Linked DNA regions of Homo sapiens: region 1 is linked to region 2. The links come from fine-mapping of genetic effects on gene expression. Tissue or cell type: testis. Region 2 holds a variant in brackets; the other region holds the start of a gene. All regions are shown on one strand. Distances are between the middles of the regions.

Evidence for each region. PIP is the estimated chance that this variant, and not a neighbour inherited with it, causes the effect.
Region 1: it holds the start of DDX11-AS1, and the variant in region 2 is fine-mapped to the expression of DDX11-AS1 in testis (GTEx, PIP above 0.99).

Annotation. Positions count from the first base shown.
Region 1 is chr12:31,070,002-31,078,104 of GRCh38, reverse strand. DDX11-AS1 (DDX11 antisense RNA 1) reads left to right here and starts at 4,258. Exons shown (of 3, transcript NR_038927.2): 1 at 4,258-4,910. It overlaps DDX11 (DEAD/H-box helicase 11), which reads right to left and starts at 4,245. Exons shown (of 27, transcript NM_030653.4): 1 at 4,014-4,245. RefSeq lists enhancers at 3,001-3,530, 3,391-3,550, 4,081-4,190, 4,063-4,594.
Region 2 is chr12:31,001,371-31,009,473 of GRCh38, reverse strand. It overlaps TSPAN11-AS1 (TSPAN11 antisense RNA 1), which reads left to right and starts at 3,502. Exons shown (of 3, transcript XR_007063261.1): 1 at 3,502-3,677. It also overlaps a transcript of TSPAN11 not described here. The variant G/C (reference allele first, on the strand shown) is at 4,681.

The DNA.
Region 1 (8,103 bases), 69 kb before region 2:
TCTAATGCCTCTACAAAAGGCTTAGAGCTCTCTTCTCACAGACCAGCACCCCTAAGATCAAGGGTGTTGCTTATAATGACTTTTGCAGCTTTCTTCTCCCACGTCTCTGCAATGCACATTCACAAGCCGAAGCTACTTCACTTTATCCCGTTGTGAAGTCCTGGAAAATCATGACGCACAGGCAGAGGACCATAAGCACAGCTTGTTGTTTGGATAGCGCAAGTTAACATACACGTCCCTATCTTTTTTTTTTTTTTTTTCGAGACAGAGTCTCACTCTGTCGCCCAGGCTGGAGTGCAGTGGCGCAATCTCGGCTCACTGCACGCTCCGCCTCCCGGGTTCACACCATTCTCCTGCCTCAGCCTCCCGAGTAGCTGGGACTACAGGTGCCCGCCACCACGCCCAGCTAATTTTTTTTTTTGGTAGAGACGGGGTTTCACCGTGTTAGCCAGGATGGTCTCGATCTCCTGACCTCGTGATCCGCCCGCCTTGGCCTCCCGAAGTGCTGGGATTACAGGCGTGAGCCACCGCACCCGGCCTACACGTCCTTATCTTACAAGTATCTTTAGTTTGCTTCTTAGTTCATCCTGGCCTCCATTTCCAGCACCGAACAGAGCCACCACCTACTAACTTTTCTGGCCTCTAGACCTATGAGCTTTCTGTTTGGTTCCAGACAGGAGAGCTCTCTTCACAGCCACGGGGCTCTGGCTGGAACAGCTTCCCAGTACTGAGACCAGGCATTTCTCTTTCCTTGCTAGGCTAAGGTCTAAGAAAAACTCTGCTCCACGTTGACGTCATCTTTTTTTTTCTCCTCTCCTGAACCTAATTATCTCTGAGACAGTGATTCAAGGAAGAAAGGAGAAGTAAACGCTATCTGGAGGCCTGACTCTTCCATCCTGGTTCCCACACCTCTCTCTTTGGAACTCACTTCTCCAAGCTCTTTGCCAGGTCTGTCTCTTCTAAGCACAAATGTTAGTAAGTCCCAAACCCATTTTACTAATATTAGTAGATCGAGAGCCCATCTTTATAACTTTGGCCTCAATAAGACTAGTGATAGTGTCACTCTATTTACGAGGGGAAAGGTAGTTGCCACGATGCTCTTCGGTTTAGGGGCAATTAAAATGACTACAGATTGGTGGCAGTTTATGGATTTGCACAAGAAGAGAGAACTCACAGAACTAGCATTATTTTACCCTCTGTCTTCACAGAGGTATATTTGGCTGTTTTGTTAGACATTCTGGGGACAAGAAAAAATGAAAAAAGAAAAACATGACTACAGAGGTAGAGGAATTATTACAAGAAGGGTAATCAAAAAACATGATTTACAATTCAATCCTGAGAGAGGGGTATGTACTGAAAAAGCTTTAACACATGAAGGAAAGGGGAAGAAAGGTACCTAACAAATTTTTGAGTACCTCCTATGTGTTAAACACTCTACAGTGGTCTTTTGCTTTTATTATCTCATTTAATCTGTACAACACTATAAGGATACAGCTACTGGATACTGATGCTTACAGAAATTAAATAATTGCTCAAAGTCACAGCTAAAAAGTGGAAAACCAGGGATTCGAATCCAGGTCCAAATGACTCTGCTTTAGTGAAGCTCATCCGGTTGCAAGAGATATCCAGCATAAGTGAAGGGAGGTTCACTGAAGGGAGGTTCACAAACTGAGAGTAAGAATTGAAACTATCTGGGAAAGCCAAAAACAGAGGCAGACTACAAGCTGCAAGGCAGCTCGGACTTCAAGACAGCTCCAGGAACGTCACCAGCAAACACACACCCACGGGGTTCACTCTCCTGCTCAGCCAGGTGCCGGATACAGCCACAATCTCACTCCCTCAGCGCACTCGGTTTCTGCTTATCCCAAACTTTCGCTTACACGTGGCCTCATCAGCCCCTGGACCTTTCAGCTTCAGCTCCCACTGCCAAGTAAAAAGTCTTCATGTCTCCTCGTTCTGAATCCCAAGACAAAAAGCTGACCAGCAGCTCCTCTCAAGACAGAGCACTGGTCAGCCTGAGACTGGTCAGGCTCCCAGCCTCATCTACTCAGCTCGGGCCTTGCACTTGCTGCTCCCCTTGGCCTGGAGAAGGAGTCCTCCTCAATATCCAGGCTTTGGCTCACCTCCTCAGAGAAGCCTCTCCGGCTGTCTGGCCGCTGGACAGTGGTCAAACACCACCCCCACTCCTCACCCCCTAGCTTGCTCTAAGTCACTTTTAAAAAATCACATTACTCTGTATTTAATTTATTCATAGCTCTTAGCACCATCTGAACCTATTTATTCTTCCTCACTGGAATATACGTTCCATAAATAGAGGAACCTTGTCTGTCTTGCTCTTCTCTGGCTCCAGGACTCAGAACTAGGTGCTTCGACACCTCATAGGCATTCAACAAAAATCTGATGAACGAATGAGTAGCCAGCCAGACATCGGGGCTGTAAGTGAAGGTTTCTCTTCCGAGGCTGGGTAACGGAGGTCCCATGACTTGAATACCTATTAGTTAAATGGCCAGTTCTTTAATGGTTTCAAACCGTTTTCAGATAACCCCACAAAAACCCTGTGTGGTATTTTTATAAGCTCTATTTTATAGAGAAAGAAACTGAGACTCAGTAAACTTATATGACTTGCCCAAGGTCACTCAGCAAGTGCTTGAACTCAGGATTTGAACCACATCTGCCAGACCCCCAAGCCACCTGAAACTTTCTATCTCCTCACTTTTCCTCCCACCAGGATAAGTGGGATAAAAAAGACAGACTTGGTTACCAAACTCTAGAATGACAACACTAAACAATACAGAAGAAACGTAAGTATTATTTCACTTCCCCATCAGTGGTAATTATGGATCTCATTATTCCAGAAGCAGCACAGGCTAAATCATAGAGGTTTAGATAAATCTGAGTATAACGGATTCACTAAGCCCTATTAAAAACATTTGCAGTGACTTGTTCAGCCCTCTTCAGGTTGGCTGTGTGGAGGACAACCATCACCTCCCAGTGCCAAGGCACACACCAGGACAGCAAAGCTCACGCTCATAAAACGAGGTTAGAGTTGTGAAAGCACTTCAGGAACATATTAGTTCTTAACGTGTTCATTTTCTTCAGTCCCCAATTATCACTCATTACTGAGTACAGACTATTGTTGTGGGCTCAGTTGTGTCCTCCCCACATTGATCTTGGACATCCCAAGCCTCTGGGACTGTGAGAAAACACATTTCTGTGTCTAAGCCACCCAGTTTATGGTATTTTGTCATGGCAGCCGGGGCTGACCAAGACAACTATGTGGCAGGTACTATCTACCGTATGGCCCTAAAATGTTTTAACTTCACACACCTGGAAAGCACCACAGCCCCAAGAAAAAAGCTTTTCCGCACTGCTGTTAAGCCAGGGCCACACACTGCAGTACTGCGGTGCTCCACCAGCTGGAGGATGGCCTGGCCCATAATACCCGCATTCCCACCTTGCTCTGGCCCTGTGTCCCCTCCAACGTGCATCCTGAGCTCGCACCCTGTGTGGAACCCAAACAGCTGCTTATCAGCATTTAAGTCCATTTTTATGACACTTCCGTCAACAATCTGGTCAAGTGCACTCATTCCTGGCCTCCGTACTGTACCCTGCTCCGCCTCGATTCCCGCCCTGGGGGAAGCTAGACTCATGCAGCTAACTTTATCGGCTCTGGGCTCTGATTGCCAAGTTTAGGATCCCAGCTGTATCCTTGCTAAAGTTAGCATCGCTGGGGCTCAGTTTCCGTAAGAGACAGGTGGGTTACAAGCGCTCACTCACTGTTGCAGTGTCTTATCTACGTAAGATAATCCATGAAAAGCTCAACACAGCTGGGCCAAATCTAAGACCCAGACACGCGGCTGCTGTTAATGCCCACTTCTGCGCACCGCCCAGTTCCACCGCAGGCACAACCTTCCTAGGCCTACCCGTCCCCACACAGGGGTTCCCGCTTGTCAATCACGCTGGCCCGGCCCTCCACTTCCGGAATGTTTTCCCGCTCCGGACGGGCCACCCACCTTTGCAAATAGGGGTCCGGCGCCGGAACAGACGCCCAGTTTGCGATTTCACCAGTCTGCCCTTCCTCGTCCCGCTGCTCCTCGTCCTAAGGAGCTCTGCTGCCACACAGCACTGCGCTCACCTTCTTCGCCGGCAGAATTGCTACGCTGAAAGCCAGGCCCCGGGAATCAGGGCAAACGCCACTGAGTTAGAAACTGGCGGGTCCCCTCAGTGAAAGGCAGCCGGAACAACCCCCGCCGCTGCGCATGCGCACTCCGGGACGCGCGCGAACACGCAGCAGCGAGAATCTACAGGGGCGTGGTTTGCGCACGCGGGAACTGGGATCTCAACCCCAGGGCTAGGTGCCTCCTCCCGCTGCTTTCCGCCAGCTGCGGGGTGTGAGATTAATCCCCGCCGATTAGCGCCAGGTGTACTAAGCGCTGGATGGTTCCCTGACCAGATGAAACATCAGCCGATGTTCTAATGCCGGTCCCCTGGGCGCTGTCCCCGAGAGGGAAAACCTGTTTTCTGACCCCGGCTCTAGTCGGCCTCTGGAGGTCTGCAGCTGGGTTATTTTACCTTTGAAACGGACGACACCTGCCCCGTGCACCCCAGCGGCTCCTCCACACGGAGAGATGGTGTCAGTCAAAGGCCGTCTAGATGACGAGTTTATGAAATTGTTCCTGGCCCGTGCCGGGCACGACCTTGCAGAGAGCCCAGAAGATGAAACCCCAGCCCTGCCAGGAGCTCACCTGCTAATTAGGAGGACAACGAATCACCTCACCTCCCTAGACTTTGCTTCTCCTTTATTCAGTGAGGGATTGGACTAGCTGGTCCTTGAGGACTTTTCAGAAAGTCTGGTTCTGGGAGATGACCAATGGGATCATCTTATGCTATGAGCTTTCCTGGAATGACAGGTAATTGGTGCGCCTTCCCAGCAGGGTCAGGGAGAGTTGCTGGGACTTGAAGGAAAGGCTTTTGGGGAGAGGAGCCAGTGTTACAAACTATCGAAAAGCTTGGAGGTGGGAAATTTACAAAAGGTGATTCCAGGGTCAGCTTTTTTGTCACCTGCTTCCGACTTCGGCAGTTTGGAGAGGGCGAGTAAGTAATACCCTTCAGGGTCTTGGGATGTGGCCCAGCAAAATCCTTAGAGGGACTTTGAAGTCTTAGTTTTAAGTTTAGAATTAATGGGCAGAGTACTTAAATAGCCATTTCTCCAAAGATGTATACAAATGGCCCACAGGCCCATAAAAATGTTGCATTCCACCCTATAACATGTTTTTGCATAAAAAAGTTTTAAAATAACTGTTGTCTGGTAAATTGACACCTCTGGAATAGAATGTATGCTAGGTTTTTTACCCTACTGCTTCAAACCCCATCCTACACACACACTCCTAGGGTGTGCATCATCCAGTTTAAGAAGCACCCTTGGAGAAACAAAGTTGATAGTGTGTCCAGAATTGATGGGTTCTTGGTCTCACTAACGCAAGACTGAAGCTGCAGACCCTCGCGGTGTTAGTTTTTAAAGGCGGTGTGTCTGGAGTTTGTTCCCTCAGATGTTCCGATGGGTTTGGAGTTTTTTCCTTCTGGTGGGTTTGTGGTCTTGCTGGCTCAGGAGTGAAGCTGCAGACCTTCGCCTGAGTGTTACAGCTTTTAAGACGGCATGTACTGGAGTTGCTAGTTCACCCCGGTGGGTTCGTGTATCTCACTAGCTTCAGGAGTGAAGCTGCAGACATTTGCAGTGAGTGTTACAGCTCATAAAGGCAGTGCAGACCTAAAAAACAAAAAGAACAAAGCTTCCATACTGTGGTAAGAAAATCCTAGTGAGTTACTGCTGCTGTCTTAGGGCAGCCTGTGTTTATTCTCTTCTCTGGCCCCACCCACATCCTGCTGATTGGTCCATTTTAGAGAGAGCTGATTGGTCTGTTTTACAGAGAGCTGATTGAGCCGTTTTGACAGGGTGCTGATTGGTGCGTTTATAATCCCTGAGCTAGACACAAAAGTTCTCCAGGTCACCACTAGATTAGCGAGATACACAGTGTCGATTGGTGTATTTACAAACCGTGAGCTAGACACAGAGTGCTGATTGGTGCATTTACAAACTTTGAGCTAGATACAGAGTGCCGATTGGTGCATTCACAATCCCTTAGCTAGACAAAGGTTCTCCAAGTCCCCACCAGATTAACTAGATACACAGTGCCGATTGGTTCATTCACAAACCCTGAGCTAGACACAGGGTGCTGATTGGTGTGTTTGCAAACCTTGAGCTAGATACAGAGTGCCCATTGGTGTATTTACAATCCCTTAGCTAGACATAAAGGTTCTCCAAGTCCCCACTAGACTTAGGAACTCAGCTGGCTTCACCAAGTGGATGCGGCAGCGGGCAGCAGGTGGAGCTGCCTGCCAATCCCGCGCTGTGCACCGGCACTCCTCAGCCCTTTGGGGGTTGATGGGACTGGGCACCGCGGATTAGGGGGCGGCGCTCGTCGGGGAGGCTCCGGCCGCGTAGGAGCCCATGGCTGGGGCGCCGGCAGGCGGCTCAGTCATGGCGGGCTGCTCAGTCATGGTGGGCTGCAGGTCCCGAGCCCTGCCCCGCGGGGAGGCAGCTAAGGCCCGGCGAGAAATGGAGCACGGCAGCTGCTGGCCCAGGTACTAAACCCCTCACTGCCCGGGGCTGGCGGGCCGGCTGCTCCGATTGCGGGGCCCGCCGAGCCCACGCCCACCGGGAACTCGCGCTGGCCCGCAAGCGCCGAGCGCAGCCCCGGTTCCCGCCTGCGCCTCTCCCTCCACACCTCCCTGCAAGCTGAGGGAGCTGGCTCCGGCCTTGGCCAGCCCAGAAAGGGGCTCCTACAGTGCAGCTGCGGGCTGAGGGGCTCCTCAAGCGCGGCCAGAGTGGGTGCCAAGGCCGAGGAGGCGCCAAGAGCGAGCCAGGGCTGCGAGGGCTGCCAGCAGGCTGTCACCTCTCAATAGGACGTGAAGGTCGGTCGGGGTCTGGTTGTAGAAGGCTTTAAACAACAAGCTAATAAATTTATACTTCACACTGTAGACAAGTTGCAAGTCACTGAAACATTTTTAAACAGAGGAGTGGATTTGCAAATGCAGTGTCTTGGAAATATTAAGCTGGAAGCAGTGTGAAGGATGGTTTGGTGGGGAGAGACCAGAAGCAAGCAGCCAAGTTGGGTTGTGCAGTAAACCAGGCAGTGCAGTAGAGGCTTGGACCTCAAGAGTGACAATAGACATGGAGAGGACAAAGGCCGTACCCACCAGGCTGTAAATCTGCATTGTGTCCCTCCATCCTCCCCTCGCTTCTGCCCTGGAGGCTTATATTTAGAGAGCTGTACTCCTAACGTGAGGCCCTGGGCTTTGTCTCAAAGGTAAAGGCAAAAGTTCCTTATGTGGACTACCTCTGCATTTGTTATTAAACAGCCTTAGATGATGCCATTAATTGAATGAACTCAGAGGCCTTCTTGATAAACTCTCAAAACTCAGGGCTTAGGAAGAAAAGTGCTTGTACTAATGTAGAAATATTTTCTATAACCGGACAGTGAGAGCTGTAGAAACCCATTATGCATTCTTCTTTGCCTTCACTGCTAGTGATCTCAGGGCTAAATATTGCACATTGTTTTAGTTTTCTTTGGCAAGCATTTTTTAATTTTGTTGTTGTTGTTCTCATTCCTTCTTGCTAATTTTAAGTGCATGTTCTAATAAAGTCTGACTGCCTGGTGGGCAGATCACGAGGTCTGGAGATCGAGACCATCCTGGCTAACATGGTGAAACCCCGTCTCTACTAAAAATACAAAAAAAAAAAAAATTAGCCGGGCGTGGTGGTGGGCGCCTGTAGTCCCAGCTACTTGGGAGGCTGAGGCAGGAGAATGGCGTGAACCTGGGAGGCGGAGCTTGCAGTGAGCCGAGATCACGGCACTGCACTCCAGCCTGGGTGACAGAGCGAGACTCCGTCTCAAAAAAAAAAAAACAAAAAAAAACAGTCTGACTGCCTGGATCCAGATATTCCCCACTCCACCATTCAACTGGCTGGATGACCTTGGCCTATGACTTAAGCCTTCTGAGTCTCTGCTTTTCTCACGAATAAAATAAAGATAATAATAGGAC
Region 2 (8,103 bases):
TGCTTGATGCTAGGACACTGCACAGAGAAGTCTGAACAGAGGCTCCTGCCCTCATGCAGCCATTTGTAGCCAGAACAGGCACCCGGCAAAAGGTCAGTGCTCACAGGGTGGGAGAATGCTCTAAGGCTGATGAGGGGTACAGACAGTTGCAGCCACTGCAGAGCAATAGGGGGTCGGCAGGCCTGGAGGAGGAGGTGGGGCTTCAGCTGGCCTTGAAGGCCCTGGATTGGATTGAGAACAGGGCAGAGAAGACAAGGAAGGCTTTTTGGGTAGGAAGATGTGCTGTGAGCAGGGTCTGGAGGCAGAGGTGTGGAAGGCGCATTTGCGAGAACCAAGGTTCATGCTGAAGAGCGGGGAGGCTCCAGGGGAAGAGCATTTTGATTTGCAGGGAGGTTTTATAGTGTTAGTCATTGGGCAGGCAGTGTCTGAGTGATTTAGCTCGTCTAACACAGCGATTGGGGTCATTATTTTGGCTCAGAGCATTGCTGAAAGCCTGGCTTACCTGTCACTGTGACCCTTGGCTTACCCACCTCAAGGATGTAATGGGGCCAGAGGGAGGCAGGTGACCTTCCGAGTCTCTCCTTCTCTTAGAAGCCTGGGTCGAATGGCGCACAGGGAACTCAGGGAAATGGGTGGGAACCCAGTCTTGCTTTAGATTCGCATTGGCCCCTTCTGTGTTGCAGAATGACTTCTCATCTCAGTCACTATCTTAATTTATTGACGAAAACTTGTTTTATGGTCCAGAGCACAGATGGCAGCAGCTCCCTGCCAAAAGAAAGCGTGCCTGCAAATCGGAAAAGCGGGCTGCCTCCCAGGAGGATGGTGGAGGGAGTAGAGCCTGTCTAGCCAGATGCTGCTGCTGGTCCTGGGTGGATGGGCTCCGGGAGGCCAGCAGAGTGGCCCCCTGATGTGCAGGCTGGGGCTGGAGCAGCTGGGGCAGTGGCAGGACCTCCTCACCTCTCTCCACTACCAGCTCCTGACTCATGGCTGCCCTGCTTCAGCCTGGTCTCTTTAGCCTAGCGCATTTAGCCTGGGGCTGCAGGCACCATCCACAGCAGCACAGCACCAATGAGGAAGGACAGGGAAGAGGGCTCTGGGTTCTGGGAGCAGGCATGGCTGTACCACAAGGAGCTCTGTGACTGTGGACATGTTTCTCTGGGGAAACTGTGGACAGGAAGCTTTCAGCAGAGGAACCTGAATTGTTCCATGCATACCTTCAAATATTTAAAGGCCTGTTTTACTTGTTCTTGGTAGATTTCTTGAGCAAAACTAGGACTGATGTGTGTTAGCCACAGGGAAGTAGATTCTTCAGGTAATAAGAAAGAATTCTTGAGTAAAGTTATGCAAAAAAAAAAAAAAAAAGAAAAAAGAAATGGAATAAGTTGTTGGAGGGTGAACACTCAGACCCTGGGAGACCCTGTGTGGCCACCTGCCTCTCTGTGGTTCCAGGGAGCTGCGGCCCTTCTGCCTACTGGGTAGCTTTGACCAAGATGCCTCTGCCCCTTCATGTCTCTCCATGTGGAAGTGGAAGCACCATCCAGTTCTCCCTCCTCCCTGGCCCCCGCCTCTATGGCTGTGAGAATGAAGGAGCTGTGGGGTCCCTGGGGGCAAGGGGCACTGAAAGTCAAAGCAGGGGCACTCCTGGAACTGACATGTTGTCCCTGCTCCCCGAGACGAAGTTCTTGGCAGGTTCATTACTAGCAGGCATGTCAGGCTGTGAAATTAAAGCCTTAAACAAAAAAGTCTTCCCATTCACTAATTTATTAAATGTTATTAAATGTTGGGCCTGGCCCTGGCCCACAGAAAGCATCGGGGAGTGCTGAGCCCTAGCATTTGAAAATCTCCTGGAAGCAAAGAGGGGATGAGGGTGGCAGAGGGGCCAAGGGGTCGGGGTGGGGGCCACCAGTGACACCCAACCCCAGGAGACTGGTTGTCTCCACAGAGAGGCATGAGGCAGTGGTGACCAAAATAGCCAGGGGATATGATGGGCTGTGATGGGGGCTGGGGCAGGTAGGGCAGACGACCTATCCCAGGTCAGTGAGGAGCCAAGGGTGACTGAAAGGGGAGTAATTTGGGGGCCCTGGGGTTTCTGGGAGTGGGGAAAATAGGGTGCACAGAGGGCTTTCTCTGTGGGTTTGTGGGTCTGGGTGTGGCCCTGTACCCGGGCTGTGGTCTGCTCAGGAACCCCCACCTGTCCCCATCACTCATTTATTCATTCCTCAAGCAAATATTTATCTGGTATTCCAGGCATATTCTAGACCTTACAGTGGGGAAAAAAAATGGGTAAGATATGAACCCAGGTCTTGGAAATGCTCGTGTTTTTAGAGAGGGTGGACAGCGAGTCTACACAGAAGCCTAGGAGGGTTCCTAATGTTCTGCTGTGGTCCCAGCCCCAGCACAAGAGGTCACCCCTGGGGAGGGGCCCCCCCTACACCGATGGGAGACTGGTGGCAGCTATGAACGGCTATGGGCAGTGGCTGTCCATGGGTCCTAAGCAGCGTGCAAGTGCGGGTAGAAGCTCAGGAGGGAGGGTAGCTTCAAGGGGAAATCGTGGGCCCCACCCCCAGAGAAATGGGATGTCTGCATGAAATATACCTATGGCAGAAACATATATTAAAACTACAACTCAATATGGTTCAAACAAAACAAGAAAAAAATGCCATAGGGATACTGGGCTAATTACAAGAATTAATAAATGAGGAGTCTGAAGTGCGGGCTCACTATACAGCCATAGCCTGACTGGCCTCAGTTTACCTGCTGTGCATGTGTTGAATGGGCCAGTGGTGATGAGGGAGACCTGAGATGCCCATTGGCTCAGGGCTCCTCCCTATGCCAGGGGCCTGCACCTTCTCCCTCCTGCAAAATCAGGGCAGGGCCCAGACAGGATCATCCTAGGAGGACAACCCAAAGGAATTGCCAAGGGTGAGGCCCCAGTCTGGGGATTTAACCACAAGTACAACAGACCCAAATCCTGGCCCTTGAGGAGGCCATAAGCAAATGCGAGGATGGGAGTTCATCTTCTCAAATTTCGATGTGGGTTTATTTGGAGCCCTGAATTAAAGTTAGTTTGAAATGCCCTCAACTGGGAAAGCAGGCAGGGGAGGCTTGATACTCAGGCTGGCCCCTAGGCCTGCCCCTGCTTGGAGAAGGGCACTGATCAGGCCTGGACCACACTGGGGTGGTTGGCGACTTCTGGTTGGTTGGTGCTGACATTGGCTGGGGCCTGATCCCCTGAGTCACCCTGCCTCGCCCTAGATTCTCCTGCCATAGACTAGATGATAGCTTGGCCATGGCCACTGAGACAACTCTGTGGTTTTGAAAGGGAATTTTCCTGAATGCCACCAGCTAAGCTCTCTGGCTCTGAGCTTTGGCTGTGCTACCACAGGCCTTGCCTCCTTCCTGTACTGGGCGTCCTCCTGCCCTGTTCCTCCCTCTCCCTTCCTGCCACACCCGGCTGACCTCTGCTCACCATTTTCTCCATTCCATGGACATTTTCCCACCACACCAGTGGCTACTCCCACTTGCACTAGGAGCGCTGTGACACCCCAACTTGTGGGGCAGAGGTCAGGCCCAGAGTGCTGAAGTGCTGAAGCTCCTGTAGAAGGTCCTTCCATGTGTCTTTCAGATCCTGGGCTTGGCCTTCTCCATAACCATCACCCAGCACATCCACTGGACTGGTAAGAAGTAGGACGTGTGTGTGGGCTGGCCGGAGTGTCCCCACAAGCCCCTCCCCACTCCCCGCTCCTCTACTGGATGCTCTGTGGAGGCAGAGGATTTGAGCTTTGTGTTGCCAGCCTGCATTCTCCAGATATGACCCCTGCGCCCACCCACCCCTGCCTCAGCCTCAGCCTTCTCAGTGGTGGAGGGGCGGGGAGGAGTTGTCGGCACAGGGAGACCTGGGGCACGGGGCACCTGGATGCCTGCGTCTGTGTCTGCATATTTGCCAGAGATGATGGGGTGGGCTGGGGTGTGCTCTGGAGGAACCCCCACCACCGATGGGTGTCTGTCTCCTGCCCTTCCTCACACTGACATTTTGTTCCCCCCATGGGGTAGGCAGCACAGTGCTTCCGCCTGTGGAGAGACTACCCTTGCGGAGGCTGCTGCTGTCCGTGGCCACTGTGGGGGAGTTGGCAGGGTGGGGTCTGCCTGCTATTGGGCGAGATCCCTTGAGCACCTCGCCAGGCTTTTTATACCTTACAGTGTAACTTCTTAACTTTATTTTACTGTGATTAATTGTTCAGGAATACTACCTCTGAGGTAAGTTAAGCGTTGGCTGTCTGATTGATAACTTTTTACTGTGTTGATTTCTTTAATGGCTTAATTTCTTTTTTCCCTAAGTGTGGGGGACCTGTGGGAATACAGGACCCCCATTCAGTCTCAGTCAGGACAAATCACTATGCAACCCCCACAAGGCTCTCAGATGAGACTCACCAGCCTTCGCTCAGAATGCGTGGAGAGGACACAGGGGTCCTGCCAGTCCTGGCATCTGCAGACAGGAGCCTGGGAGAGGCAGGTGGAGAGAGGAGTGGGAAGGAGGCTAGAGGCAACTCATCACAGGGTGATGGTGTTTGCTAACAGAGCTCAGATGCCAGAGCAGTGGGGGTCCCCTGGGGGCTGGTGAAGTGCTTTGCCAGAAATGCAGCAGAGCTGGCAGGTCCCTGTGCTTTTCACTGAGGAGCA[G/C]TTGTTGGGTTTTTCCTTCTTCCTTCCTCCTGCCCTCCACTGCATGGGAGGCCGCCCCTTCCACCACATGCGGGCCTTCTCGAGACAGGCTCTGCACACCCCAGTTCCTTTCACAGACATTCCTGCTAGAAACTCTCAAATTTCTCTCTAGTGTGGATGCTACTCACTTTCTCCCCTTGCTTCTGGGTTGGGAAGCCATCCTTAAGTTTTGCTACTCAGACAGCGACAGAGGACCCCATTGGGCAAGTGGAAGTGGCGCCCCTGATTGTTCCTGCCAGCTTCACCCAGCCACAGGTTGCCTTGCTGAGAGGGAGGGAAAGATGTCCAGTTTGGTCCTATGATCTCTATCTCCTTCCCAGGGTTCATCGACATCAGCAGTGGGTGGGTGGCAATCACATCCTCTGTGATCTCAAAGAGAAGAAATACAGAAAGCCCAAGAGAGATCAGACTGGCCCTAGACTACCATAGCCCCAGGAAGAAAGAGCTGGAGTCATGGCATGCACACAACCGGACGTGTGAGATGAACAGGCAGGGTCAGGTATTCAATGGCAGGATGCACCCCTCAGAACTGAGGCTGGTCTAGTGTAATGTTTTGCAGTTATGAAAAAGTCAAGAATCTATGGGACTCAGCATGCAAAGGTTATCCACTAGCCAGGATCCAGTGCATGTCGCTGGCTGGGGCATTGGTGGGTGGCAGCCCTTCTTCCTACAGTTGGCTCCATACCCTGGTTTCCCAGCCAGACGAGGTCTCTTCTCCAGCCTCCACCTGCCTGTCTGCTCCCAGGGCTGAGTCATGGCCACCCAGCTCCTAGTCACTCCTCTCTTCATCTTTAAGTAACATATAAATTGGGACCAGGAGGATATAACTTTTGATGTGTTCAGGATTCATATTTTTGGCAGGTGGGAGTGGGGAGTAGGCTGGTCTTAGGGTGCTGGATGGGGTAAAGACAGCTTCTCTGAGACAGGAGCCATGGTGCTGATGGAATATGAGAGAGGCACACATTTGAGCAAAACCGCCCTTCCCTAGTCCTCTGGCCGGTCTTGCTGGTAAGGAGTCCTCCCCGGGAACCCCAAAGTGCAGATTCCAGAGCAAACACACTCCTGTAGACAGATGCTCACCAAACAAGTGCTCAAGTCACCCAGTGGGACCTGGAGCATCATGTGTTTCTGATGTGGGTGGAGTGGGTAGGTTTGTTTATGTAATTTTTAGTTTTTGTTAATATCAACAGCAACAGTCCAGTGCATTGGGAGATGTGTGGCCTCCCTGAAAGTCTTGTTTCTGGAGTGCTTTAGGGGCATCCTCTGGCCCTGGAGCCTTTGCTGCAGTGTCTGCTCCCCCAGCCACCCCCCAGCTCATCTGTCCGTTTGCAGAGCCTTGTTCACAGGTCCTCAAACTGCCTTCTTGGCTCACCCAGTGCTTGGCAGTTTCATCATTTGGCCAAGTCTACATTAGGTGGAAGTCTCCATGCATAGAGTAGATGTTCCTCCAAGCCCCTTGCCTGTCCTGCAGAACGGTCCCCACACCTCCCAGAGGGCCACATCCTGTGATGCCAGTGAAGGTGGCTAAGTGTCTCTCCTCTGTGTCTCCTGACTATGATCTCATTGGGGCAGAATTCCCCTGAGTGAATTCCCTCACTGTCTGCTTCCCTTGCCAACATCAGAGTTAGTTCAATCAGGTCTGATGCAAACAATTTACAAACTTGTCTCAGAAAGTCCCTTTGAGTTTGTAGATGATTACAGTAGGATGTCTGATGTGGACTCAGCCTTTCTTTGCAGCCATCTCACAGAAGGGGTGAGCAGGCAGGGGGTGAGAACTGCCTCCGGGCGGCTGGCAGTGGGTGTCAGGGTGCAAATCTCCTCCCCACAGCCCGCAGCTGGAGCGGTGTCACCCTCTCTCCTTCCAACATGGGCCTGCATCTTGGGCTCTCTGGGGAGGTTGCTGCCCTGCCCTAGAACCTCTTGTAGATGTTCTATTTTGACTTGAAACTAGATGGCCATCCCTCCAGGTTTTGGTGGCCAAAGAGCAGTTCAGGTGGATGGAAGTGACTGTCCCTTCCTCTCTGGCCCCTATATAGGTGGAGGTGCTAACTAGCAGGGACATGGCACAGGATGGGAGCTGGGTGCCAGGTGCCTGGGGTCCATTCTTTGTCCCGCAGACCCTCAGAGTCTGGCCTGCCCCTCTGCTGCAGTGAGGCAGTAGTCCAGGATGGGTCCCTGCTCCAAACGGGCACTCTGAGGAGGCGGGGTCTGAGAGGCATCCCACTGCCCTACTGCAGTAGAAGTCTCGCAGTGGCCTTGGTTGGGTCCTGGTGTATGGGGTTTCCTTGGCTGTCACAGTCACAGTGACACATGGTAGATGAGAGCAGCTGAGAATTCCCCTTGTCCTGGGTCATTGCTAAACCCTATGTCCCCGGAGAGGAGGCAGGCATAAAGAACGAGTGTGCATGTGGGTCTGACAGCAGTTGGAAGTGGGCATCTTGAAACCCCTCTGTGTGTGGAGCTCTACCTCCTGTCCTCAAGGGGGTGGCCAGGTCCACGTGAAATTGTCCCAAGGCATCAGCCTCCAGGGCCCCATCCTGCAGCCGCCATGTCCCAAAGCCTGCAGAGACCACTCTGTGTCTGAAGGGACCCTCTGACACAGGTCCCACTGGAGCAAGGTCCCTGAGAGCCTCCCCAGGAGATTTACCGAGACAGACTCAGTGGCTGCAGGATGTGGACTGGTTAGAGGGGCAGGTGACCCCCATCATCTGTGGAAGACCAGCCAAGTCATGGGAATTTTGGTGGAAGCCACCCTGTCTCTGCTTGTTCTTGCTTTGGCTCCTGCCACCAGGTCTGTGGACCCACCTGTGTGCTTGTGGCTCACAGGGCAGTGGAAAACATCGGCCTCTCTCTTAGCACTGGGCCCCAGTCACACAAGCGGAGCCGTGGAAGACAGGCTGCCCTGGCTGTATATGAGAGGGTCATCTTCCTTCCCTGGGGACATCTGGTGACTGTGCTAGAGCCTTCTGGGATGGATCTGGGCTCTTCAGTCCATGGGAGTGGCTGGGATGACTCTGGGAGCCCCCTCACTGTTGTGTGATGTGGTGGGGGAACTGCCTCCCCACTGGTGCTCAGCAAAGCACAATTGAGAAAGGGTGGCTTACGAGCTGTGGCAGAACCCTGCCAGCCCTTCAAGTGGCTAACACTGGTGCCGGCACACACAAATGTCTATTGGCTCAGACTTACTGAATACTCAAGTAACTCATGCCAAGCACCTAGACAACAGTCAAGGAAGATGCAGACACAGTACCTGTGCTTGCAGGGCCAATCATCCAGTAGGGGCCCCAGAAGAGTGAACATGATTGCAGGTCAATGCTGATGATTATATTCACAGGATGCTGGCTGGCTGTGTGGGAGAGGCAGTGACCCAACCTGGGGAGAAGG